3 linked regions of the Homo sapiens genome follow. The protein of the gene in region 2 purifies or fractionates together with the protein of the main gene of each other region. This does not show direct contact. Each region holds a gene or a part of one and is shown on either strand. Other genes may lie near its edges. The genes, in order: FGFR2, C8orf74 and MORN2.

The links.
Region 1: the proteins of C8orf74 (region 2) and FGFR2 purify together in Homo sapiens (affinity purification with mass spectrometry; 3 studies listed by BioGRID and IntAct, with this or other methods). This does not show direct contact.
Region 3: the proteins of C8orf74 (region 2) and MORN2 purify together in Homo sapiens (affinity purification with mass spectrometry; 3 studies listed by BioGRID and IntAct, with this or other methods). This does not show direct contact.

The regions. Positions count from the first base shown.
Region 1 is NC_000010.11:121,474,986-121,485,837, reverse strand, and holds the end of FGFR2 (fibroblast growth factor receptor 2 isoform 1 precursor), read left to right. Parts: intron 1-305; coding exon 306-443; intron 444-2,034; coding exon 2,035-2,140; intron 2,141-3,660; coding exon of another isoform or gene 3,661-3,666; exon of another isoform or gene 3,667-4,014; intron 4,015-5,724; coding exon of another isoform or gene 5,725-5,787; exon of another isoform or gene 5,788-5,816; coding exon 5,817-5,981; 3' UTR 5,982-6,167; coding exon of another isoform or gene 6,168-6,257; 3' UTR 6,258-7,506; downstream 7,507-10,852. UniProt on the Homo sapiens protein: Tyrosine-protein kinase that acts as a cell-surface receptor for fibroblast growth factors and plays an essential role in the regulation of cell proliferation, differentiation, migration and apoptosis, and in the regulation of embryonic development.
Region 2 is NC_000008.11:10,668,749-10,675,627, forward strand, and holds the start of C8orf74 (uncharacterized protein C8orf74), read left to right. Parts: upstream 1-3,879; 5' UTR 3,880-3,917; coding exon 3,918-3,965; intron 3,966-4,910; coding exon of another isoform or gene 4,911-4,952; intron 4,953-5,834; coding exon of another isoform or gene 5,835-5,897; coding exon 5,898-6,090; intron 6,091-6,879.
Region 3 is NC_000002.12:38,876,917-38,886,389, reverse strand, and holds the end of MORN2 (MORN repeat-containing protein 2), read right to left. Parts: intron 6,212-9,473; coding exon 6,161-6,211; intron 5,791-6,160; coding exon 5,684-5,790; intron 4,949-5,683; coding exon 4,812-4,948; intron 3,978-4,811; coding exon 3,875-3,977; 3' UTR 3,681-3,874; downstream 1-3,680. UniProt on the Homo sapiens protein: Might have a role in spermatogenesis.

The sequences.
Region 1 (10,852 bases), on a different chromosome or scaffold from region 2:
TTTGAAACTGAGAAACTGAGATCCTTGCATTGCTAACACCACATTTAAGACAAGCAGCTCTATTCCAGAGTGATGGCAGTTTGCCTTTTTGTCTATTGATGGAAAATTCCATCAGCACATCCCCGTGTCATCATCATTCGGGGATGCTCTTGCAGGGCAGGAAAGAGCACATAGGAGGAACTGCAGGAGGGCCCATTTGTCTTTGAACTTCAGAAGTGAGGAGGTGTTTATGTCTCAGCTGGGCGTGTTTAGGTTTTGGCAACGTGGATGGGTTAGTAATGCCGTGCTTTCTCCTTTTGTTGCAGCTGGTCCTTCGGGGTGTTAATGTGGGAGATCTTCACTTTAGGGGGCTCGCCCTACCCAGGGATTCCCGTGGAGGAACTTTTTAAGCTGCTGAAGGAAGGACACAGAATGGATAAGCCAGCCAACTGCACCAACGAACTGTAAGGGCTGTTGTCTTTCCTGCCGGTGCCCCAGTGGACTTGCCACACCAGTAATACCTCTCCTGATGTATCTCGTTTTTGAAGGCCCCTGGTTTCCTAAACATGCTCTAAGAAGAATGGCTGAAGCTCTCTGGGCTCAATCCAGAGCTGGGATACATAGCGACACCGACAACCATTACTTGTCTGAGAGAAAGAACATTATTCTGAGTATGGAGAGGGCTTTGGATCAGAGGGTGTCTGGCTGCCTGGCTGAGGGCTCCTGACTTTGCAGAGCCAGCAGGAGTGGTCTTCCTGGGCCACTGTGCTGCACCTTCTGCGGTCTCCCGTGGAGTGACAGGAAGACCCACGGGTCAGGAAACAAGCTAGAAAGCCGCGGGGCCGCCCTGCAGGGTGTAGGATTAAGGAACCAACACAGCCTTTCCCTGGTGGTTGTGCCTGGCCCCCGCCTGGCCCCATCGTGGCCAGTAGAGAATCGGTGTTTCCAGAACTTCTCGAACCATTGAAAATTGCCATTACAGATTGACGCCAACCACATTTCCTCAGAGCGAAGGAACTCGTGTTTGGTTACCTAGGTCTCACTTGTGTTTTAGTGCAGAGAATTAAACATGTGTCCAGGCGCCCTCCTTACTGTACCAGATCTGCCTGTAAAACCATGAACTGGTTTGTAGCAAAACCTGCCTCACACTTTAAGTGGAGTTATGTTGTGTTTGTGACGTGTGCCTGGTGCAATAGAATCAGTGCTTTGAAAGGAGTCTCTCTGCCTCCTGCCTCAACCCCTCCAGGATTAACTAAGAAGAGTGATTGTCCCAGAAACTGCGGTCTATTGTGTATCATTTCATGGGGATTTTATATCAGTAATCCCGTGAGTGCTTTTCGGTGTACCGTGGATGTCTGATGAATGGCCACATTTTATAGCATATTATATAAAGGCATTTATTGTGCTCTTTGTCATTCCTATTGTTTTTTTTCTTTTGTAACGTAGAGGATCTGTCGAAACCCAAAATCAAGATAAGACCTGGGAAGCTAAGCCTATCTAAGAGTTAATCAGGAAGTTAGTGTGCAGCCCAGTGGTGGCAGATTAATTCATCAAAAACTTGAAGTTGTAGTTTTCAAATTTTATTTAATTTTTTTTTAACTCAGGAAGCTGTGTCAACTAGAATCATTAAGACCCAAAGCACCGGGCAGATAAATAGTGGAGCTGCTTTGGTGCTGGGCAGGGTGTCAGGGGAGGGAAGACTGGAGACCAGCCCATGGAAATACGCATTTTCCTTCAGCCTCCAAAGCATCTTTAGGGTGTGACGCCATTGTGAGATGTCACTGTGGCCCAGGGTTACCAGGGAAAACACATAGCTGTGTCTTTCTTGATGGCTTCGATGCCTTTCTAACATGTTTTTGTAAGTCAAAGTGCCTTTCGGAGGAACTGGCAGGGAAGCTTTTGGGAAAGTGATTCATGACCCCCTAATCTAGTTGCTTGGAAGGTTCTGATGCATTTTCCTAATTTACACCACGTCCCCATATTGCCTATTAAAACTGACTATAACCACGTACCCAGTGCATATGAAATTAATTCAAGGAAATCCATTTTTCCCAGGTACATGATGATGAGGGACTGTTGGCATGCAGTGCCCTCCCAGAGACCAACGTTCAAGCAGTTGGTAGAAGACTTGGATCGAATTCTCACTCTCACAACCAATGAGGTAAGAACTTCCTTCTAGAAGCCCCTTGTCCTTGGTTGTCTTGTGAGACATGCGTAGTGTTTTACACACACACTCCCCTGTTGGCTGTTGGTTGGAGTCTGTGGTCTTGTTTATTCTTTTTCCATAGGGTCAGATAGTTCAACTATGGGTTCCTCTCAAATCATGATTTTTCTCAGAACTTCATTTTGTGAGTTCTGACTCATGAAACCAAAGACAGAGGGACATCCCCGAGGCTGCCTTCAGTGTAGCTGCTGGTGGAGCAGTCCGGGGTATGTGGGAGAGTGGGAAAGGGGAAGCAGTATTCACTTGCATTTTGGTGTGCATGGGAAAAAGCTTGGATTCCTGTGCAAGTTTGATTCTGTGCTTTGGTCATTAGTGGGTAAACTGATAATGTTCGTCATCATTTGCTTGATGGAATACAATGAAGTTTTCTAACACCAGCTTCTGTTACCACAGTACTATCCTATGTGATCCTGTTGGTAATGCTATATGCCTTGCAGCCTCTTTCTAGGTGTATATAAACATACACTGTTTTCTACAATGAGCAACTTACATGATTTTTACATAAAAACATGTACCTTTTGTTAAAATATTTATTTTCCCTAAAATATTTATGCTCTCGCCTGTAATCCCAGCATTTTGGGAAGCCGAGGAGGGCAGATCACCTGAGGCCAGGAGTTCGAGAGCAGCCTGGCCAACATGGCGAAACCCTGTCTCTACTAAAAATACAAAAATTAGTTGGATGTGGTGGTATGTGCCTGTAATCCCAGCTACTTAGGAGGCGAGGTAGGGGAATCGCTTGAACCCAGGAGGTGAAGTTTGCAGTGACTGAGATTGCGCCACTGCACTCCAGTCTGGGAGACAGAGCAAGACTTCATCTCAAAAAGAAAATAATAATAATTTATGATCCTTGCCAACAAAATAAACACTCGTCTGTCACTCACTGTGCAAATTTAGCCATGTCAGTGGCTCCTTCAATATGCAGATAGAGTGCCTTTTATAATTATGGAAAGCATATGCTCTGAGCAGGAAAGATGATAAACCCATCAAGTCTAGTCAAATCTTAAGATAGAGAAATTGTTAATGAATGTATTTTGAGATATTTAATGAGGATGCACAATAGTGTTCTTTTACACAGGAAACTAACTCCAAACCATGCAATTGTCTCAACAAGAAAAAAGTTAAAGTCCCCCAAGTATTTTAGAAGGAAAATAATACACTTAATTTCTGATTTAGGAAATAGTTTTAGAGTGATTTTTTAAAAAGTAATAATCAAATGTAGTGATATGAAGTCTTAGCTCAGCAGCTTTATCTTATGCGTCTGACTGTGGCCTGTGCTGGATAAAGGAAGAGATTGCACTTAAATGAATACAGCTGACCTTCAGAAGTTGAAAGGAAAGGAACGGTTCAAGGGGGGGAAGAAACCAACTTTCTTCTTCTGCCAAAATTGTTGTTTCTAGTATAAGTTCCTTTAACTGTAGACTTGGAATCTACTGATATCCCTGTTTTTTTCCTATCAGATCTGAAAGTTTATGGCTTCATTGAGAAACTGGGAAAAGTTGGTCAGGCGCAGTGGCTCATGCCTGTAATCCCAGCACTTTGGGAGGCCGAGGCAGGCGGATCATGAGGTCAGGAGTTCCAGACCAGCCTGGCCAACATGGTGAAACCCTGTCTCTACTAAAGATACAAAAAATTAGCCGGGCGTGTTGGTGTGCACCTGTAATCCCAGCTACTCCGGGAGGCTGAGGCAGGAGAGTCACTTGAACCGGGGAGGCGGAGGTTGCAGTGAGCCGAGATCATGCCATTGCATTCCAGCCTTGGCGACAGAGCGAGACTCCGTCTCAAAAAAAAAAAAAATAAAAATAAAAAAGAAAGAAACCGGGAAAAGCACTAAAGTTCTATTTTAATGATCTCATGTCTATGCTCAAAGTGATTTATTTATATATTTACATGTAGAGTGGGTCCGTTGATACTGAAATTTGTATCTAGTACCCTAAAATAAAAAAGCAGAATGCCATATTGTCTGGTGGATATAAAAATCGAAGTTTCTTTCCTTCTGAAAATCATTACCATATGCTCAAGAAAAACGGTTCCATTTAGGACAAAATTTCGTTTTTATCATTGTAAGCAAAAAGTTCTCTTTTGATGTGGTGGGCGTGTTTGTTTCCAGTTGTGTGGTTAATGCTGATGTTGTTGGAACTGATACATTCCCCTTCTGGGATGCTGGGATGGGGACTCTTTCTCTTGCCAACCCTGGTGATGAATTAGAGGGTTTTGTGTGTGTGTGTGTGTGTGTGTGTGTGTGTGTCTTTAAAAATGTCTAGTTGCCAACATTCCATGGGCTCTTTTCTGATAACACTGAGGCTGTTTGTGCTGTGGTCTGCACTTTTTGCCCCCTCTCAGCAAAACCACATGTCATAGAATAGTTGTTGGCTTCTGGATGTGTGAGCAGAACTGCCCCACTGTGCCAGCCCAGTGGAGGCAGAGAGACCCACAAGTTCCCAATTTAGAAAGCTTTTCATAGCTTCAGAACAGGGGTCGGCAACTGCTTTCTGTAAAGGGCCAGGGAGTAAATATTTTCAGCTTTGCCGGCCCTGTGGTCTCTGTTGCAACTTCGCCACTGTAGCCTCAAAGTAGCCACAGACAATATGTAAATAGATGTGTTCTAGTCTGTCTTCTAGTAAAATTTTATGGATCCTGAAATTGGAATTTTATATAATTGTATATAAATTTTATTCATTTTAATCCTATAAGATATTCTTCTTCTTTTGATTTTTTTTTTCAACCGCTTACCAATGTTAAAGACCATCTTTAGCCCTCAGGCCATACAAAGTCGTCTGTGGGCACCCAAGTCGGAGGAAGTGTCACCCTGGGGTGATCCAGAGGGCTTTTTGCAGCACCAGCACTGGATGCCTTGGGGAGCAAAGGACACTTTCTGAATCTCGAACCTTCAAAACTTTGAAACTTAACCGATATTTTCCTGAAGTTTCCTTTAACAGTGCATTATGGATTTAACATACATGAGTATGTCTAAGCCTTTTTTGAACCTGTTTACATTTTCAACTCGGAGAGCTTCTGAGAGTAATCAGTTACATCTGTTAAATTACCCACTGAATGAAGAAGTATTCCCCTTCAATTATCCCCGAAACTACAATAGTAAAATGTAATTCAGAAAATAAATATTCATAGTCTCAACTACTTAAAGGGGGTCTGGGGACCCACAACATGTTACCGGTTTTCATTTTGCTGGGGCTCGCATTTGAAGCAAGGGCTCTAGTGAGGAGGTGGTGTAGACTCAGCGGGTTATTTAGGTCCGTGTGAAGCCGAGTTGCCTGCCCAGCACCTATAGCTCAACTAGGTTTTATTGTTCTCTACCTGTCAATAGTTGATTTATGATGGATTCCAAGAGAAAAGCTAAGGACAGCCTGGGGTACATCAGACGTGGTCTCAGGGAGGTCTTCGTGGAAGTCAGGTGGGCTGGGTCTCTGTTCACCTTCTAGGGGTCTCCTGTCCTGTCCCACGTCCAATACCCACATCTCAAGAGTTTGTGTTTGAAATAAAACTCTTCTCTTCCCTTCTTTCAGGAATACTTGGACCTCAGTCAGCCTCTCGAACCGTATTCACCTTGTTATCCTGACCCAAGATGAAATAAAACGTCTCTCTTCCCTTCTTTCAGGAATACTTGGACCTCAGCCAACCTCTCGAACAGTATTCACCTAGTTACCCTGACACAAGAAGTTCTTGTTCTTCAGGAGATGATTCTGTTTTTTCTCCAGACCCCATGCCTTACGAACCATGCCTTCCTCAGTATCCACACATAAACGGCAGTGTTAAAACATGAATGACTGTGTCTGCCTGTCCCCAAACAGGACAGCACTGGGAACCTAGCTACACTGAGCAGGGAGACCATGCCTCCCAGAGCTTGTTGTCTCCACTTGTATATATGGATCAGAGGAGTAAATAATTGGAAAAGTAATCAGCATATGTGTAAAGATTTATACAGTTGAAAACTTGTAATCTTCCCCAGGAGGAGAAGAAGGTTTCTGGAGCAGTGGACTGCCACAAGCCACCATGTAACCCCTCTCACCTGCCGTGCGTACTGGCTGTGGACCAGTAGGACTCAAGGTGGACGTGCGTTCTGCCTTCCTTGTTAATTTTGTAATAATTGGAGAAGATTTATGTCAGCACACACTTACAGAGCACAAATGCAGTATATAGGTGCTGGATGTATGTAAATATATTCAAATTATGTATAAATATATATTATATATTTACAAGGAGTTATTTTTTGTATTGATTTTAAATGGATGTCCCAATGCACCTAGAAAATTGGTCTCTCTTTTTTTAATAGCTATTTGCTAAATGCTGTTCTTACACATAATTTCTTAATTTTCACCGAGCAGAGGTGGAAAAATACTTTTGCTTTCAGGGAAAATGGTATAACGTTAATTTATTAATAAATTGGTAATATACAAAACAATTAATCATTTATAGTTTTTTTTGTAATTTAAGTGGCATTTCTATGCAGGCAGCACAGCAGACTAGTTAATCTATTGCTTGGACTTAACTAGTTATCAGATCCTTTGAAAAGAGAATATTTACAATATATGACTAATTTGGGGAAAATGAAGTTTTGATTTATTTGTGTTTAAATGCTGCTGTCAGACGATTGTTCTTAGACCTCCTAAATGCCCCATATTAAAAGAACTCATTCATAGGAAGGTGTTTCATTTTGGTGTGCAACCCTGTCATTACGTCAACGCAACGTCTAACTGGACTTCCCAAGATAAATGGTACCAGCGTCCTCTTAAAAGATGCCTTAATCCATTCCTTGAGGACAGACCTTAGTTGAAATGATAGCAGAATGTGCTTCTCTCTGGCAGCTGGCCTTCTGCTTCTGAGTTGCACATTAATCAGATTAGCCTGTATTCTCTTCAGTGAATTTTGATAATGGCTTCCAGACTCTTTGGCGTTGGAGACGCCTGTTAGGATCTTCAAGTCCCATCATAGAAAATTGAAACACAGAGTTGTTCTGCTGATAGTTTTGGGGATACGTCCATCTTTTTAAGGGATTGCTTTCATCTAATTCTGGCAGGACCTCACCAAAAGATCCAGCCTCATACCTACATCAGACAAAATATCGCCGTTGTTCCTTCTGTACTAAAGTATTGTGTTTTGCTTTGGAAACACCCACTCACTTTGCAATAGCCGTGCAAGATGAATGCAGATTACACTGATCTTATGTGTTACAAAATTGGAGAAAGTATTTAATAAAACCTGTTAATTTTTATACTGACAATAAAAATGTTTCTACAGATATTAATGTTAACAAGACAAAATAAATGTCACGCAACTTATTTTTTTAATACTCGTGTCTTACCAAATGGTTTCCTGTGCTTGGAGGTGCTGACTGAGTGCTGTTGTGAATGCAGGAAGGGCAGGGCTGCCAAGGGTCTTATGTGCTACACACGGGGGTGACTTGCCAGAGGGGTTGACTGAGACCAGCAGTACCTGTGACAGGTTGAGGTTGATCCAGTGGAAAATCTGAATCAGTTGGTTGGAGCCCTGGCTCGGTTGCTTACTGGCACCTCAATGGAATCATCGTTCCTTTCTGAGCCCTACCAGTTCCCCAGAGGAGCAAACAAAGAGCCACATGGTAGAGAGCTTTGCAAACTGGAAGGTGACCTAAGGATGACAGGTATTGAGTAGGGAAGACGTTCAGAACATCTGAATCCTGGGGACTTAAAAACCTTTTAGGCTGTTTTCTTCATGATGTATGGAGAGAAGGATTTGCTTCAAATTTTCCAAAAGAAAACTTGGACAAATGTTCGAATAATTATTTATTTTCATACCACCAACGATCTGAAGAGGGAAATGGAGTTTTGCCTGTCAGTTAACAAATGTGAATCTGTGACTCTTAAGGGTCTGTTGTATCTACTTGCCAGCCTCATCAGCAGCAGGAAAGGGAATTGAACATAGGCCAACTTCTCCTGCACTTCAGCCAGGCTCTTAGAACCTTACAGGGCCATTGGTAAAGAGTGCTGTCTTTGGGGTCTTCTTTCTGTTTGAGGCCATTCATGGTGGAGCAAGGTGTCACCAGCCATCAGGGGAGTGGCCTAGGGTCCTGGTTCTGTATTTCCCAAACCTCTGTCCTTCTGTTTCTTACAGGATAACAGGGCTCTTGGGAATGTGATTTTAAAAATAAGGTGCATGAAAGCCACCTAAGAAAATTGTCACCTGTTAGACACAAGTGTACAGGGTGATGTTCTGTACCCCTGGGGACATTTCTACCGTGAGATGTCCTTGGCAAGGGTGAGGATGGACTTGCTGGGGTCTACGCTGGTTCCTCCGTGCAGCTCTCTGGTGCATATGCTGTACTTTAGACACTGAAGGGCAGTTTATAGCCTTGACAGTGTAGATTATAATGGCAGTAAGAACTGCTGTATTTCTGGCCCATTTCATGGAGATGGGTGGGCAAGAATCCTAAATGGTCTTTTGGCCATTTTGATTTTAGAATTATTTTGAAAGAGACACTTGTCATGAAGGGCAAGAAGGCAGTGTGGTCCATGAGAATGATAGGTAATACAGTACCTTTTTTTTTTTGAGACCTGTCCCAAATGAGCATACACAGGTAGGATTCGATAAGAATCCTGGAGCTTATGGCTCTCCTCCCCCAAGAACCTAAGGAGAGCGTTGGAAATTAGTTGCAACTACATGTGATGGTCACCTAACCATCATGAGATGAGTTCATTTGTGAAGAACCAAAAGATTGCAGGCATCTTGGATGTGTAGTGCCCGGCCTGCTGTTCCTAACTGGGAAAGGCATATCCAAGAGGCTGCCTCAAAACGTCTAGCTGATGGTAGCCTCTGGCAGGATGGGGAGCCAGAGAAAGCGGGTGGAAAAGTAGCATCTTCACGGGGGTTCTGTGCATTCCCAGGGGACAGGGTACCCTGCATCCACCACACAGCCTCTCCATCCCTCCTCAGGGAGCTTCTCTGCATCTGATCTTGTGGGGAGTTCCTTAACCCCACACATAGGAACATAGGAAATTAAAACATGCATTTATAGTAAAACGTCTGAACAACTTGAGCTGCTATGAACTGAGGACTCCACCTCCAGTTTTGAAAACAAGAAATGGGGCTGCTACCTTATACTGCATCACTGAAGATTGCTTGCAGGGCTGGGTCCAGAGGGCTCAGCTAGGACAGAAGAGGAAGCTGAGGCTCCGCTTGAGGTCCCTGAGGGTCACATGGCTGGGATGTGGTCTAAGGAACAAGACTGCAGCCTTGTTCAGTGCAGGAGAAAGACAGTGGACTTGTGGGCTTGGACAGAATTGATTGGTTTGTTTCTTACAGCTGGGTGATGGTGCGCAAATCCCAGCTTCTGTCTGGATGTTTGTCTCTAGGTGAACCTGGTCCTCACCAGCCTCTCGACTTGCCATGAGGATTTGCTGTAGGGCTTAGCTGTGGCAGACAGGACTCAATAAGTGTTCGTTTTCTACTTCCTGAGAATTTTTTTCTACATTTCAGTGATTTTAGTATATCCACGTTGTGTAACCATCACCACTATCTAATTCCAAAACGTTTTCATCACTCCATAAAGCCAACAAATTCCCATTGTTAGCCACTTGCATTTCCCCCTCCCCCAGTCCTTGGCAACCCCCAATCTGCTCTCTGTCTATGGATTTGCCTACTCTAGACATTTCATGTAAATGGAATCATATGCTATGTGACCTTTTTTGTCCAACTTCTTCACTTAATGTTTTCAAGATTTGTTCATACGGTAGCCTGTAACAGCACTTCATTTTTATTGCCAAATCCTATTCCATGATATAAATTTACTACATTTTGTTTATCCATTTGTCCATTGATGGACATTTAGATTGTACTTTCCAGTTATGAATAGTGCTGTTATGAACATTCATGTACTGGGTTTTTGTGTGGTCAGGTTTTCATTTCTCTTGGGCATATATGTAGGAGTGGAATTGCGGGATCATATGGTAACTGCTAGACTGTTTTCCAAGGTGGCTGCACTATTTTACATTCCCACCAGCAGTGCATGAGCATTCCAGTTTTTCCACATCCTTGTCAACACTTGTTATTATCCATATTTTTTATTATAGCCATCCTAGTGGATATGAAGTATCTTCATAAGAATTTCGTAGCTGAGGAGATAGGATGCAGATCATTGAATAAAGATACATAATGCTTTCCTGGTTTTTCCAGAAAAAGATACTTCAATTAATCAGCTTGGTTTCTACACTGATGAAATGGCCAAGGTAGCTAAGATGCCTCAGTGGATCTTCATGAAATGGAGAAGCTGAGAAACCAATCAATTCCCTGTCTTCCCTCTTGGCTGAGAGAGGAAGGAAGCACTGCTAAGTGGTGCAAGGATGCAGGATCTTTCTGGCTGGAATGCTTGAGTGTATCTGTCCTCACATCCCCAGTTTTATACCAAGTAAAGTCACGCAAGCTTGAGCAGTCCATGCGGACTAATGAATGCACCATTACTTATGTATGTGGGTCCATTAGGTTCCTCCTTACCAAGCCTGCATTTTGATGTTATTTATTTTTTCATGGTTTTAAAGATGAAAGCAAAGTTTATCTTCTCTCACATTTCATCCCCAGGAGCCTTGAAATGACTTGGCTGTCGACCCTGGGCAGGGACAGCAGAAGCCGTCCATGTCTCAAGTGACATTCTGGAGTAGGGCC
Region 2 (6,879 bases):
GATAATGTGACCATACCAATATACCTTCTTATATTTCCAGCATCCAAGCTCATGTCTTAGCAGGCGGTCAATGATGATGACAATGAAGATGATAAAAACCATACTGATGATGATAATGATGATAGAGAATAAAAAGGGAAAAATAATGGTCAAATCTTGCATGCAACCAAGAATAGTCAAAAACTCTATTGTAGAGGTGATTCTTGTAGCTTGAAGCAAGTGGTGAAGTAAACTCTGCTTTTGTACTAACTAGAAGCCTAAATGTCAGGCCCTACCTGGAAAACTCCTGAATCCTGCAGCAGTGTTGATAGCATGGCCAATTCTTAAGTTATGTGATTTTTGCACAAGATATTTAATGCATCTATGCTCAATTTCATCTTATATCAAATGGCAATGTTAATAATTATATCCATCTTATAGAACTGTTGCAAGGATTAAAAGACATAATGAATTTGAAGCTCTTGAAATAGAACTATCTACTAATGAAAAACACTCTTCACTGCTGTTTGGTAACTCTGTGAGGCTTTTATTTCATTTTTATTACCAAACAGGCCTTTAGGATAGGTAAACTGAGATCCAAATATTCATCCCACACACAATAAATGGGAAAAGACACCACAAATGCCATTAAGCTCAAGCCTGCCATGCCATGTGGCTTTTGCATGGCTCTCAGAAGAGATTTGAGAATGTCCATGTTTCTTTAGCAAGAGAACATTGGATGTGGCCAAAATGAGTCAAGAACATAGGTGGGCTCTGTCCGTAACCAGTTTTTGCCATCAATGTCACTTTGTGATTCTTTTGATTATTCACCAGTAAACTTGTACTGAGTCCCAGCCACCATCCAGGCCTGCAGTGGGCACCAGGGCTCCAGAGGTGACTAAGACATTGTCCATGCCCTCGCAGGACCAGCAGGCTAAAGGGGGAAGCCACCATTCAATCAATACACAAGGTGCAATGTCATAAGAGCCATGATAGAAATGAACACAGCCATGCAACACACAGTTGTGCCTACTATGTGCCAGGTATGTACAGTGGTAAATAACACATTCATAAATAAAACAAAATGCCCTCTTTGTCTTACAATCTAGGAGAAAGCAGCATTAGAACAATCATCTACATGAAATGAAAAAATTACAACCTGCAAAGTGCTACTGGGGGTGCATTTAATGCTACAAGAGCATGTGACAGGGACTCAGGAAAGGTTTCCTTGAGAAAGGGATGATTAACTTGAGACATGAAAAGCCAGAAAGAGTTATCTAGAAGAGCAGAGGAAGAAAGAGCATTCCAGGGAGAGAGGGCAGCAGGCAAAGTCCTGGAGGGAGTGTGGGTGAAGCCAAGGCCAGTGTGGGCCGGAGAAGAAAAGGTCACATGAGGCTGGACAGCCACATGAAGGCCTTGGGGCTTATGAATGAGCAGCCATGGAAGATTTGGATGCAAGAAATTGACATAGTCTAATTTCATATACGCATGTATTTGTGTGTGTAGAGAAAGGGGAGAAGGTGTAATATACATAAAATTCAGAGATCTTAAGTGAGACATATATATACACCAGTGTAACCACCTCCTGAAAAACGATGCTACACAACAGCACCCTAGCAAGTGCTCTTGACAATGCCAGTCCATAATTAGATTTATTTTTTTAGTTACCTCTGGCAACAGTGTGGAGAATGGATGGTGTAGGTGTGGGGGTTGGGGGGGGTGGCAAGAAATGGGAATGAACTCTACTTGGGGTAGCAATGGGATTCAGAGAAGAGAATGGGCTCAATAAATGTTTAGGAGGCAGAGTTCCCAGAGCTTCAAGGCAGCTGGAAAGGAGTGAGGGTGAGGAGTCAAGAATGAGGTCCAGTCCATCAGGTGTGGTGGCTCACGCCTGTAATCCAAGAGCTTCAGGAGGCCAAGGCAGGGGGATGGCTTGAGGCTAGGAGTTTGGGACCAGCCTGGGCAACATAGTGAGACCCCATCTCTACAAAAAAAATATTAAGAATAATTATCCAGGCGTGGTGGGTGTTCACCGGTAGTCCCAGACACTCGGGAGGCTGAGGCAGGAGGATCACTTGAGGCCAAGAGTTGGAGGCTGCAGTGAGCCATGATCATGCCACTGCATGGCTTGAGCAGTGGAGGGCACCTGATCAGCCAGGGTTGAAGAGGGATCTGGAGGGTTTTCCAGAAGAACTAATTTTCGTAGAGGCTGAGTTTGGTGGTGTCAGTTAAGAGTCGGCCAGGTGGGGGGATTTAGAAGTGCATTTAGGGAGGACCCTGAGAATGGATGAACAACAGGCAAGCAGAACCAGGGGTCAGGGAGGCGTTCCTGACAGCGCCGTGCCAGCACCTGGCCCCCGCCTACCTTAAGCAGACGTGAGATTTCTCAGTCATGTGAGACAGCACATTCGCATTTGGCCTAAGGTCAGGCTGAGTCTCTGACAATTGCAGCAAAAAGCGCTGTACTAATACTGACTCTGAGAAAATGGAGCAGGATAGGACACGGGATGAGAAGGGGCTCTAGCCTTGGGGTATGGAGACCCATCCCAGCTGCATCCTGGGGAGGTCCCGGGGCCACAGACTTGGGAAGGACTCGAGTGAGGGGCTCCACCTGAGGGCCAAGGCATGGTGTCAGCCTGGGGGACACCCCTAGCACTGCATTCAGGACAGCCCCTGCCAGAGGAGCCTGGACATGGAGACCCCCTTCTGACCCCGGATCAGGACTCCTGCCAGCGACACACCCCAAACACTCAGAAGCCCCCGAGGACCCCTGGACACCCCACAGGCGGCGCAGGTCCGCAGGTATCCGTTCTTTGGGGAGAGGTGTGGTGAGTCGCACACTCCAAGACAGAGAGGGGTGAACACCGCCACTGCGTAAATGTGTGAGTCATTTTCTGTGGATGGACATTGAAGTCACGTGGTTGGATAAAGTCATTGAAGACTAGGTGGCCAGGAAGGGCAGTGAGGGCCCTGAAATATCACCATCACGACGGGAGGAAGGTGGGCGGGTCCTTGACGCAGTCACGTGGCTGAAGGAGGATGACGGTTCAGGATGGCCAGAGCCTCTTCCAAGACAACCCCCTGGGGAAATGGGGTGACCTGGGGAGCCAGGGGTCCTGGGCAGCTGCCCACCAACCCTGGCGAGTAGGACCAGGCTTTCCTCACTGGGACTCTGGGCAGTGAGGCAGAGGAAGGAAGGACTTGCCTCCCAGGCAACCGGTGGGTGCCAGTGACTTCCAGGACAGAGAAGAGCAAGGCTGGCCCGGAGAAGGAGCGAACCCCTCCCAATCGCCGCCTTCAGGGGCTTGGGCACTGCACTTGGGGACACCCCTGAAGAACTGTTTGCTCTACCCCAAAGCAAAGTCATGACACCAGAAACAGAGCCATGGATGCTACTGGCCAGTGGAGGAGGTCGGGGAGGCCAGACCCTAATAGGAGGAGTCAGGGAGGACGTGGAGGCAGCAAGCCCGGGCAGTCCTTTCCGTGGAGACAAACACCCCGACCTGTCGGCAGGCAGGAGGCATGAGGCTACAGTCAGAAGAACATGAGGATGACGGGCAGCATGTGTGCATGCGTGTGCGCGCGCATGCATGTGTGTGTGCACGTGTGTGTACATGTGTGTGCCTCCGTGTGTGCATGTGTCTATGTGTGTGCAAGAGTGTGTGTGTGTGTGTGTGTGTGTGTGTGTGTGTGTTTATGGGAAGCCTCAGAATGCTCACTTCCTGAAGGAGAACAGGTTATGAGGGAGAGGCAAGGGGGGGTTCCTGTCCCTGAGCAGGTGCAGGTGACCAGGCCCAGCGCATCGCAGGAGGGGCCGGGAGGAGAGAAGCCTGGGAGAAGCCATTCGTGACCTAACAAAGCTGGCACTGGCCACCCCCAGGGTTCCGGAAACTCTGAGTCAGTCTGGCTCCGTCTCCTGGCAACCAGATGCAGGGGCCATGGCACTCTTAACACCCCAGGGAGTGAAAGAAGTCTTCCAACTTCAGGTGAAGGAAGAGAAAATGTGGCTTTTAAACAGAAACTGGCTCATCCTGGGCACATAGGGAGGTGGGCACTGGAAGCGCCTCTTCAGGAGACCCCGGGGCAGCCACCCCGGCTCAGCACAGCACCTCTGAGGCTGTGACGAGATGTGGGGCCCAAACTTCAGGCCAGGGCTTACCAGCCCCTGGACCTTGTGGGCTGTTTTTCAAGCCACATGCAGGCCCAGAAGGAGCAGATCCTGCCTGAAGGGAAGTGAGGGACTGTGCCTGCCTCCTCTGGGACCCTGAGGGTCCTGCGAGCCACTGTGTGCAGGGAGTGTGTTGGGGGAGGCTCTGCTGCTTTCTAGGGGGTGCTGTCTAGATTAGGCAGAAGAGTGGTGGCAGTGGAAGAGGAGTCTCTGGGGGCCGAGGACAGGACTCTAGGCCTCCCTCTGTCACTAAGGCCACCATTGGTCCTCCAGGGTCCCTTGGGGTCCTCCCAGCCAGAGGATCCCTTGCCTCAGGAAAGCAACACTCTTGCGTGTGGTGGGTGGGTCTCTGCTGCACCCCAAACATTTTTTTGCCACTTCCTTTAAGTGGCACTTGCTTCTCCTACATCTGCTGGGAGCCTATAAGAACTTTCCAGAAGGGCCAGCTGAACTCTCAAGTAAAATGGGTTTTTACTTCTAGGCAGGGAAAAAAGTTTACCTTTTCCTCTTGGCCTGCCCGTGTGTCTGAATTTTCACCAAGCAAGACTCATTCCTTCTGCTAAAGCATTACCTCACCAAGCCCCTTCTTGGTCAGTCACTTACACTGTAGTATAAATTTCATTGTCAGATCAATGCCTCTACTGCAGTCAGTTAAGAGTAGACTCAGGAAAGTCAAATTTTATTTTAGGCAGGGGGATAGGGATCGTATTTCAGAACCTGAGGCCTGCTGGAGGTACACAAAACCTGGGCTGCAGTGGCCAGCATGAGAACTCTCAGAGGAAAGAAAGTCCTAGAAGAAGAGCAAGTCCCAGGAGGAGGGAGTGCTGCCCAGAAACCAAAGCACAGCTCTTCCCAGGGGTACCCACATACCTAGTTACTCTTCAGGGCTCTGGAGCACCACTGTGGGGACCCCAAAAGTGTCTTACCCAGTAGAGATGGCTTCTCAACTCCTCAACCCCATATTATACCCTGCAACCCCCATATCACACTCTCCAGCCTCCATATCATACCCTGCAACCTCGATATCATACCCTGCAGCCCCATATCATACCCTCCGACCCCCATATCATATCCCACAACCCCCATATCATACCCCACAACCTTCACATCATACCCCGCAACCCCCATATCATACCCCACAACCTTCATATCATACCCCGCAACCCCCATATCATACCCCACAACCATCATGTCATACCCTGCAACCCCCATATCATACCCTGCAGCCCCCATATCACATCCCACAGACCACACATCACACCCTGCAGCCCCCATATCACAGCCTGCAGCCCCCATATCACACCCTGTAGCCCTCATATCATGCCCCACAACCCCATATCATACCCCACAACCCTCATATCATACCCTGCAGCCCCCATATCACACCCCGCAGCCCCCATATCACACCCTGTAGCCCCCATATCATATCCTGCAACCCCCATAGCACACCCTGTAGCCCCCATATCATGCCCTGCAACCCCCATATCACACCCCGCAGCCCCCATATCACACCCTGTAGCCCCCATATCATATCCTGCAACCCCCATAGCACACCCTGTAGCCCCCATATCATGCCCTGCAACCCCCATATCACACCATGCAGCCCCCATATCATGCCCTGCAACCCCCATATCACACCCCACAGCCCCCATATCACACCCTATAGCCCCCATATCACACCCCGTAGCCCCTATATCATGCCCTGCAACCCCCACATCATACCCTGCAGTTCCCATGTCATTCCCTGCAGAGACCACAAGGTCGGGAGCGCCTGCGGAGGCTTCTGAACTGGGAGGAGTTTGACGAACAGAGAGACTCCCGGAGGAGCATCCTGCTGGACACCCTCTACGAGAGCATCATCTTTGCAGTGGGCAAAGGCTTCCCATGGGTGGAGGTGGCCCAGGTGGTCAAGTTCACAGAAGAGCTGCTAAGGGAAACCAAAGGTATGGTGTGTCCAGGGCAGGAGTCAGCAGAGGCTGGCGGGATGGGGTGGGTACACATAGAACTCCCCTGCCGTCCACAGCCCCAGCAGCCTTGGAGGAGCCAGGGCCCCTTCCTGCCCTTCCCTGGCATTGGGCCTCCTCACATGCTTAAAAATAAGGTCTCTACTCAGCCTTCCCAAACATCCTCACTGAGTCTTCATTGGTCTGCCTGACTGCAAATCTGAACCACTCCAAGCTGTTTGCACAACAGCCAGGGTGTTTGCTTTTGTTTTGTTTTCGTTTGGTTTTGCTTAACATAAATCAAATGTGTCACCTTCCCTGACTTAAAACCCTTCATGGACCTGAAGGGCTGCACGTTGTTCCTGGTAGGAGATCTGGCTTTGCTGCAGGTGCCGGGGGAGTCCTGGAGCTTGCTCACGCAAAGATGGGGGATGCAGTCAGGTGGGTGCATGGAAGCAGCATTGCCCACTCCCTGGCCCTGTGCAGGGCTTGCATGAGAAAAGGACCTGGTGGCATGAGGAGCTGTGGTCACTCCACCCACCTCTTGGGCAATGAAGTGCAGATTCATTCATTAAGCAAATACATGGGGCAGGCTCTCTGGGGCTGCCCTCACAGTGATACTTCATTCCACTGAGAACCATCCATGGGTGCTGAAAGTGGTGGGCGGATGCTTGATGAGAAATGGGATACTTCCATGCTTTCTAAGAACCTCTCCCACAACATCCTTCGTAGTGACAAAGAGAAAGGAATACTCTTACAGGGAAGAAGCTGACAGCTGCCTCCTTAGTC
Region 3 (9,473 bases), on a different chromosome or scaffold from region 2:
CTTATTTTGACCTTTAGGTTTTATCATGGTCAGCACCTGTGGGATGTGTTGGGTTTTGGGTCAGCAGGGTAAGGAACAAGTGGGCTGTATTGCAAACAACTACAAGGGGAAGGAAAGTTTTAACTAGGCCAAGAGTAATGGGATATGACTGGATGTCAGACAACTTATGTCAGGCCTAAAAATGGATGCTGAGGCAGTGACTATATTAAGCAAATTTCTGACAATCAGATATGATTTGCAAGTATATTATCCCATTGTGAGGATGGTATTTCCATTTTCTTGATAGTCTCCTTTAATGTATACTTTTTTAAAGATAGAAGTGACAAGAGTTAGCATCCTTGCCTTGTTCCCAGTCTTAGAGTAAAAGCTTTTCAGTTTTTCACTGTTGAGTATGATGTTAGCTGTGGGCTTTTTATATATGACCTCTGTTATGTTTAGGTAATTTCTTTCTGTTCCTAATTTGTTAAGAGGTTTTTTTTTAAATAATGAACAGGTTCTCAATTTTGTTAAATGCTTTTTCTGCATCTGTTGAGCTGATTATGTGATTTTAGTCCTCTATTCTGTTAATGTAGAATATCACATTAGTTGATTTTCGTATGTTGAACTATCCTTGCATCCCAGGGATAAATCTCACTTGGTCATGGTATATGACCCTTTCCATGTGTTGTTGGAAACAGGGGAAAATCTTCATGACATTGATCTTGGCAATGAGTTCATGGATAATGACACCAAAAGCACAGGCAACAAAACAAAAAATAAACAAGTGGAACCACATCAAACCAAAATCTTCTGCACAGCAAAGGAAACAATCAACAGAGTGAAAAGGTAACAACCTACAGAATGGATGAAAATATCTGCAAATCATATATCAGATCAGGATTTAATCTGTAAAATATATGAGGAATTCTTACAACTCAATGGTAAAAAAAATTAATAACCTGATTTAAAAATGGATTAGGAACTGAACAGACGTTTTTTCAAAGAAGACATATAAATGGTCAATAGGTATTTGGAAAAATGCTCGATGTCACTAATCATCAGAGAAATAGAAATGAAAACCACAATGAGATACCACCTTATACCAGACAGGATGGCTATCATCAAAAACAAAAAACAAATGCTAAGGAGGTGGAGAAATTGAACCCTTGCTGTTTTGTCTCTCTAAACCCTCAAATCCTCGGCTGGAATCACCCCAAAAGCAGTGGCAGGGGGACTTCCCACAAGGGAGTCTCCAACTGTCCTGAGATAGGGCTGGCTGGAATACCAAAGAAAAAACTCTAAGCTCTAGGGTGATCAGTCCAAAGAATTTATTAGGGAAACTTCCTTACAGAGGGCTGCAGCAATTGCTGAGAGAGAAAAGGAATGTTCTACCCAGGTATGTCTGCAGCAAGGGGATCAGAGTCTGGAGTTTCTATGACAGTTTGAGAAATTTGGCTCAGGGCTGGGGGCCAGTTTCAGTGTTTTGAGCAACAACCGAAATACCTTTCTCAGTGCTTGGGAATGTTCAAGGCCCAGTTTGGGTTCAAGCCTGCTGAGAAAAACATATAGCCAGCTGGGTCACAGAGCAGTCAAGGTACTCTGTGATTTTCAGTAAGGGCACAGAAAGAAAGTGGGAAGAACTGGGTTACCATACACTTGCCCACTGTTGCTGGGAATGCAAAATGGTGCAGCTGCTATGGTAAATCCTATGGAAGTTCCTCAAGAGATTAAAAATATAACTACTGTACTTGCTTTGGCAGAACACACACTAAAATTGGAATGATACAGAGAAGATGAGCATGGCCCCTGTGCAAAGATGACATGCAGATTTGTGAAGTGGTCCACATTAAAATAATAATAATAATAAATAAATAAATAACAAGAACAAAAAACTACTATATGAGTCAGCAATCCTACTTCTGGGTGTTTATCCAAAAGAACTGAAGCCGGGTGCAGTGGCTCATGCCTGTAATCCCAGCATTTTGGGAGGCCAGGCAGGCCAGGAGTTCAAGACCAGCCTGGCCAATATGGTGAAACCCTGTCTCTACTGAAAATACCAAAAAATTAGCCAGGGATGGTGGACCACACCTGTAATCCTGGCTACTTGGGTAGCCAGGGCACAAGAATTGCTTGAACCCATAAAGCAGAGGTTGCAGTGAGCCGAGATCACACCACTGCACTCCAGCCCGGGCAACAGAGTGAGACTCCTCTATCTCAAAAAAAAAAAAAAAAAAAAAAAAAAAAGAATTGCTATCAAGATCTCAAATAAATATTAGTACTCCTATGCTCACTGCAGCACTATTTACAATAGTCAAGATGTGGAAACAAACTAAACGTCCACCACCCCTGGCTAATTTTTTGGTATTTTCAGTTGAGATGGGGTTTCACCATGTTGGCCAGGCTGGTCTTGAACGCCTGGCCTGCCTGGCCTCCCAAAATACTGGGATTACAGGCATGAGCCACTGCACCCGGCTTCAATTCTTTTGGATAAACACCCAGAAGTAGGATTGCTGACTCATATAGTAGCAGTCCACCACAATGAATAAAGAAAATGTGGTTTACACATATAATGGAATACTACTCAGCCTTAAAAGAGAAATCCTGTGATTTGTGACAACATGGATGAACCCTGAGGACATTATTCTAAATAAGCCAGTCACAGAAAGACCAGTACTATATGATTCCACTTTTAAGTATGAGGTATTTAAAATAGTCAAATGTGGCCGGGTGGGGTGGCTCACACCTGTAATCCCAGGACTTTGGGAGGCCGAGGGCGGGTGGATCAGAAGTTCGAGACCAGCCTGGTAAACATGGTGAAACCCCATCTCTACTAAAAATACAAAAATTAGCTGGGCATGGTGGCAAGTGCCTGTAATCCCAGCTACTCGGGAGGCTGAGGCAGGAGAATAGCTTGAACCCGGGAGGCAGAGGTTGCAGTGAGCCAAGATTGCACTGTTGCACTCCAGCCTGGGCAAAAAGAGTGAAACCCCATCTCAAAAAAATAAAAAATAAGAAAAATAAAATAGTCAAATTCATAGAATCAAAGAGTAGAATATGGTTACCAGGGGCTGGGGTGATGGGAAAATAAGAGGTAACTAATAAAAGGCCATAAAGTTTCAGTCAAGCAAGATGAATAAGCTCTAGAGATCTGCTGTACAACATTGTACCTATAGTCAACAATAATGTATTGTACACTTAAAATTGTGTTCATTATCCTTAGCAAACTAACAGAACGGGAACAGAAAACCAAATACCGAATGTTCTCACTTATAAGTGGGAGCTAAATGATGAGAACTTGTGGACACAAAGAAAGGAACAACAGACACTGGGGCTACCTGAGGATGGTGGCTGGGAGGAGGGAGAGGATCAGAAAAAATAACTATTGGTACTATGCTTAGTACCTAGGGGACAAAATAATCTGTATAACAAACACTGTGACATGAGTTTACCTGTATAACAAACCTGCACATGTACGCCTGAACCTAAAATAAAAGTTAGAAAATAATAAGAAATGAATAAAATGTATTACAGCCTAAAAAAAAAAGTTGTTTTTTTTTTAAAGAGGTCGGATGTTGACCAGGACACACAAGCACAAACTAGAAAAAAAAAAAAAAAATGACAAAACTCAAACAGAGGATTGGAAATCAACTTTGCCAAGATTTGGATGCTTCTGCCATAGTTATTATAATAAGCAGACTGAATTGAATCATGTCATTTATTTTAAACTAATTGTAAGACAATGAATATAAAGTTCAAAAAGGTGTAAGCAGGTGATGGTTTTATTGGCAAACTTATAGGGGTAGTGTATGAAGTCATTTCAAATAACAGATTAAGTTGCTTTCCTTACAACTAAAAGCTTCAATTACTACATTTCAACTTTAATTTAACATCACATCTACATGTGAAGCTTTAATTTCAGGTCTGGAGCAGCTGTAAAATGAAAGTTACCACTCCATTCTAGTCCTTGGATATCAGTATATTCCCCTTCACCTTCCACCCTGCAATAGTAGAAAATAAGTTTTCCATTAACAAAGATGAATAATTTACAGTCCAGATATAAGATTTTCTAGCATAATATATACTATGTCTGAAGATTATATCCTCTACTTTCAAGCTTTGCTTTTAAACCCAGCATCCTGCTTTCATATCCTACCAAAAAAACAAACAAACCAAAAAAAAAAAAAAAAAAACCACATACTATTCCAAACAAAAACAAACAATTATTTGGTGTCCAAGATTTTAGGATCACATAATCTAGGTTCACACAAAACCAAAACAATGAGTTAAAAAAATGAAAAGTTTATATCGGTTATCTAGCTTAATTACTTCACTTATTCAACAAATATTTTTTCACTATCAATGATGTTTGAGGTGCTGTGCCACCGCACCTGGCCTCCAACAATTTTTAGAAACTATATCATAAAAGAATATTTAGAATTAACTAAATATAGTATTTAAGCAGCTGGGCACAGTGGCTCACGCCTGTAATCTCAGCACTCTGAGAGGCCGAGGCAGGCAGATCACTTGAGGTCAGGAGTTCTAGACCAGCCTGCTCAACACGGTGAAACCCCGTCCCTACTGAAAATACAAAAAATAGCTGGGTGTGGTAGTGCACATCTGTGGACCCAGCTACTTGGGTGGCTGAGGCAAGAGAATCGCTTGAACCCGGGAGGCAGAGGTTGCAGTGAGCCGAGATCACTCCACTGCACTCCTGCCTGGATGACAGAGGGAGACTCTGTCTCAATAAATAAATAAATAAATAAGTATTTAAGCAAACATACCAGAAAATAATCTTTTAGAAATGCAGTGATTTTTTTTTATTTTAAGCTTACCTATTTTCATTGAAATTTCCAGTATACTTTGCCCCATTTGGGAATGTGTAAGTCCCCAGTCCATGAAACATATTATCCTTAAATTGTCCTTCATATACTGCTCCTGAAAAATGCTCAAGTCTTCCAAAACCATTCATCTGTTTGTAACAAAGGAAATTACCTTAGAAACTAATCTTCAGTTTCCCAAGAACCTTTAAAAAATGTACAAATATAAGTCTATCATCTGCTAATTATTACTTAACCAACTTTGTATTGTCCTTTATTTCCATAGTATAAAGACAACATTTTTATCATTTTCCTTCATCTGTATCTATCTGTGAAGCCCAGTAAATTAAATGTTCTGGATCTGGGACATTTGAACATCAGGGGGTCCATGATGAAGATAAATAGGGGTCCTCAAGATACCCTGAATGTATCAGAAATCTTAAAGGGCAACCAGTTTAGTTAGTTCAGGAAACCAGTACAAAGTAGTTGTTAAGAATTCAAATTTGGATTTGAGCAGACCAGGGTATACTTTCCTGTTTTATCATTTACTAGCTGGGCAAGAAACCTGAGCCTGATTTTCCTCATTTGTAAAATAGAGTATTAATGGTACCTATCTCATGAGGTTATTATGAGGATTAAATGAGAAAATTATGTAACGGATTCAGCTTTACTCAATGAATAGGAGATGAGAAAGAAAGTAACGATGATTAGCTTTCTACAGTGAGTTTAATATTACTCATAAGTTAATATATGTTAATATGATCATTTGTTATTTTTATTATATAGTCTACTCATTATAGGAGTTTTTGATTAATGGTGAAATGCCTGGAATCACTAAACCTACAGGGTTATTTATCCACTGCCAATATTAAAAACAACAATAATACCTTGTCATCTTTCCAGCTTCCTGTGTAGACAATCCCATTAGGAGTGGTATGAATACCTATTCCATTTCTCTCGTAGATTCCAGAAGATGTTCTTGTACAGTCACCATCTAAACAGAGGAGAAAAACTGAAGATTATAAATGAGAATAGTTATGTCTGGGCCTAATCGCAACTACACCTCATGGGTTTCTTTGGCTCCCTAGCACTGAAACCAGTGAGACCAGAGATGAGAAAATCCATGGACACAGAACATCTTGTAACAATTGAGACTCAAGGGCCAGGAAGATTGACAGATCCCATAGGTTTCCAAGGCATTGGAATTTTGATTTTAAAAGCTCTTTATCTATTAGGATTTCTGTTATTTTAGTTAATAAAGTTAATATCCTAATAGTAGTTTTATAAAATTTAACAGTCTCAGTTTTTTATTCCTAAGCTATTTAATTTTCTATACAGAAAAAGTAATTGAAGCGTATACTTACCATACTTGTCTCCATTTGGAAAGATAAAGCTGATCTTATACACTTCTGAAGCTGTTTTAAAAGATTTAAAAACAGTGACATAAGTTTACTTTTTTTTCGATAGAGGCAAGGTTTCACTACATTGCCCAGGCCAGTCTCAAACTCCTGGGCTCAAGCGATCCTCCCGCCTCAGCCTCCCAAAGTGCTGGGGATGCAAATGTGAGCCACCACACCCAACCAAGTGTAAACATTCTTATGTCATAAGACCTATACCCAATGTGCTTTCAGCACTATCCAAATGGACTTACTTCTCAAGATCACATCATATCATGATTACTTGGTATTTCCATTGTCTAATGTAGGGTCCCGGGGAAATAAACAATTTTGCCTAGATGATCTCTTTTAAAATTTATTTATTATGATAGCTTTATTAATATATAATTCACACACCACAAAATCTACCCTTTAAAAAAATACAATTTGATTTTTTTAGTATATTCAGAGTTGTGCAACTATCATCACAATCTAATTTTAGAATATTTTAATCATCCCAGAAAGAAACTCTGTACACATTAGCAGTTACCCATTATGATTCCCCTCAAACACCCCTCACCCCACAACCCCAAACCCCTGGCAACCACTAATCTACTTTCTGCCTCAGGGATTTGCCTATTCTGGACATTTCTTATAAATGAAATCATATAATATGTGGTCCTTTATGTCTGGCTCGTTTCACTTAATGTTTCCAAGGCTCATCCATGTTGCATCGTGTATCAGTACTTCATTCCTTTTTATAGCCAAGTATATTGTATAAATATGTTGTACAGAAACAGCATATTTTGTTTATTCATTCATCAGTTCATGGACATGTAGGTTGTTTCCAGTTTGAGGCCATTATGAATAATACTGCTATAAACACTGATGTACATTTTCAAAACATACAGCTTCCTAGGAGTAAAAAAAAAATTGGTGTACAGATTTTTGTGTGGATATGTTTTTATTTCTCTTTGGTAGCCCATATGATTTACTGATTGTCCCACAGAGGTAAGGTGGAGTGAGGAATCTTTAAATTGGCAATAGGAAGAAATGGAAAATAAAGATAGCAAGTGGGGAAGGGCTGGTAGGTCCACACAGAATGAGACTGGAATGGAGACCAAGTGAAAAAGGAAGAAAGAGGACCGCAAGACTGAGGGGGACTCTGGGCCTCAGATCCCTGGACACTTACTGGACTAAAACTAGAAACTGTATTTTCCGATACTGAAGAAAACTTATGTAGAGACGGTATGCAGGCCCATCCTTCAGAATCACCTGAGATGCTTCTAAGTTTCTTCTCTCTACCCCACATCTACTGAATCAGTCTTTACGGGTGGGGCAAGGGAATTTAAAAATTAATTTAGGTACCACTTGAGAAAGGCTTGGAGGCTCATCACTGAGGAAACAGAGTTAACACAATAGGTAGAGGACTTAAACTGTAACATCCTCAGAGAGAAAGGGAGAGTATTAGTATCCTTGAAATAGGAACAGGTGATTACAAAAAACAAAAAACAATTAGCAATCCAGGAAATGAATAATATAATTGGTGAAATAAAACTTCTTAGAAGGGATGAAAAGCAGAATAGATACAATTGAAAACAAATTAGTGAACTGGAACATTAGGTTGAAAAATGTGCTTAGAAAGTAGCACAAAGTGTGAGTGAGATGGCTGGAAAAAAAATTTTTTAATTAAAAAAAAAGAAAGTAGCACAAAGAATTTTAAAATGATGGAAAGTGGATCCAAAAGGCTACTGTCAGTCTAATAAGAATTCCAGAGGGAAAGAATAAGGGATATTTGAATAAATAGCCAAATTTTTCTCAGAACTGAAGAAAATGACTGCTTGGACTACAAATGGGAACTAAGCAAAATCCCACACCTAGACAGGTTACAGTACAATTTCATGACATAAAGACCAAAGGCCAGCTAGGCTAGTTAAAAACAAGCAAACAAAAACCAGATTACCTACAATAAACTACAAAGGACTGACATTAGCAACAGTGGATTCTAAAAAAAAATGGCACTATGTCTTTAAAATTCCGAGACAAAATTATTTTCAACCTAATATTCTACATCCAACGAAACTATCAATCTAAAATCATGGAAACTGGCAGGCACGCTGGTAGGATGAATTACTGGCTCATGCCTGGAATCCCAGCACTTCGGGAGGCTGAGGAGGGTGGGTTGCTTGAGCCTAGGAGTTCGAGACCAGCCTGGGCAACATGGTGAAACCCATTCTCCACAAAAAATACAAGAATTAGCTGGGTGTGGTGTTGCATGCTTGTTGTCCATGCTACTTGGGGGCTGAGGTGGGAGGATCGCTTGAGCCCAGGAAGTGAAGGCTGCAGTGAGTCCGATCACACCCTGCCCTCCAGCCTGGGTGAGACAGCAAGACTCTGTCTTAAAAAAATAATAAAATAAAAAAAATTAAGTTTTAAAAATAGAATCTGGTGGCTCATGCCTGTAATCCCAACGCTTTGGGTGGGTGAGGTGGGAGGACTGCTTGAGCCCAGGAGTTTGAGACCAGCCTGGGCAACATAGTGAGATTCCATCTACACCAAAATTAAAAACTCAAAAAGAAAAAAAAAGAATCTGTAACTAAAACTCAGGTAATATCAATATGGAAATGGTGTGGAGGATAGAGAGCAATCTTGCTAGAATTCTGATCTCGTTTAGGGGTTAAATATAGACACTAATTAACACTAAATCTTAGAAAAATCTGAATTTAGTTATGTTTGCTTATTTTTTCCCCATAATTTCTAAGATTTGGTTGTGGATAAAGGGTGAAGTATGGTGGTATACAGAAATTGCCATGTGTGCTCATTAATTAGTTATTTACATGTCTGCAAGATGTGAAATTCCAAGAGAGCAGGGACACAGAGCTACTTTCTTTCTTTTTTATTTTTTAATTTAATTTAATTTAATTTAATTTATTTATTTATTTATTTATTTTTGAGACGGAGTCTCGCTCTGTCGCCCAGGCTGGAGTGCAGTGGCTTGATCTCGTCTCACTGCAACCTCCGCCTCCCGGGTTCACGCCATTCTCCTGCCTCAGCCTCCCAAGTAGCTGGAACTACAGGCGTCAGAGCTACTTTCTAAGTGTTTAACTAATGATAACTAACTAGATTACCAGATCTGCTTGTAGTTTCCCACAGATGCCATGCCGTACTCTGGGTGGAACACCCTTCTCTTCTTTACCTGGTTAACTGCTATTCATCCTCAAGAGTTGGCAAAATAGAGTGTAGTAGTTAGGGGTTCATGCTCTGGCATCGGACTACCTACCTTTGCATCCAGACTCCACCA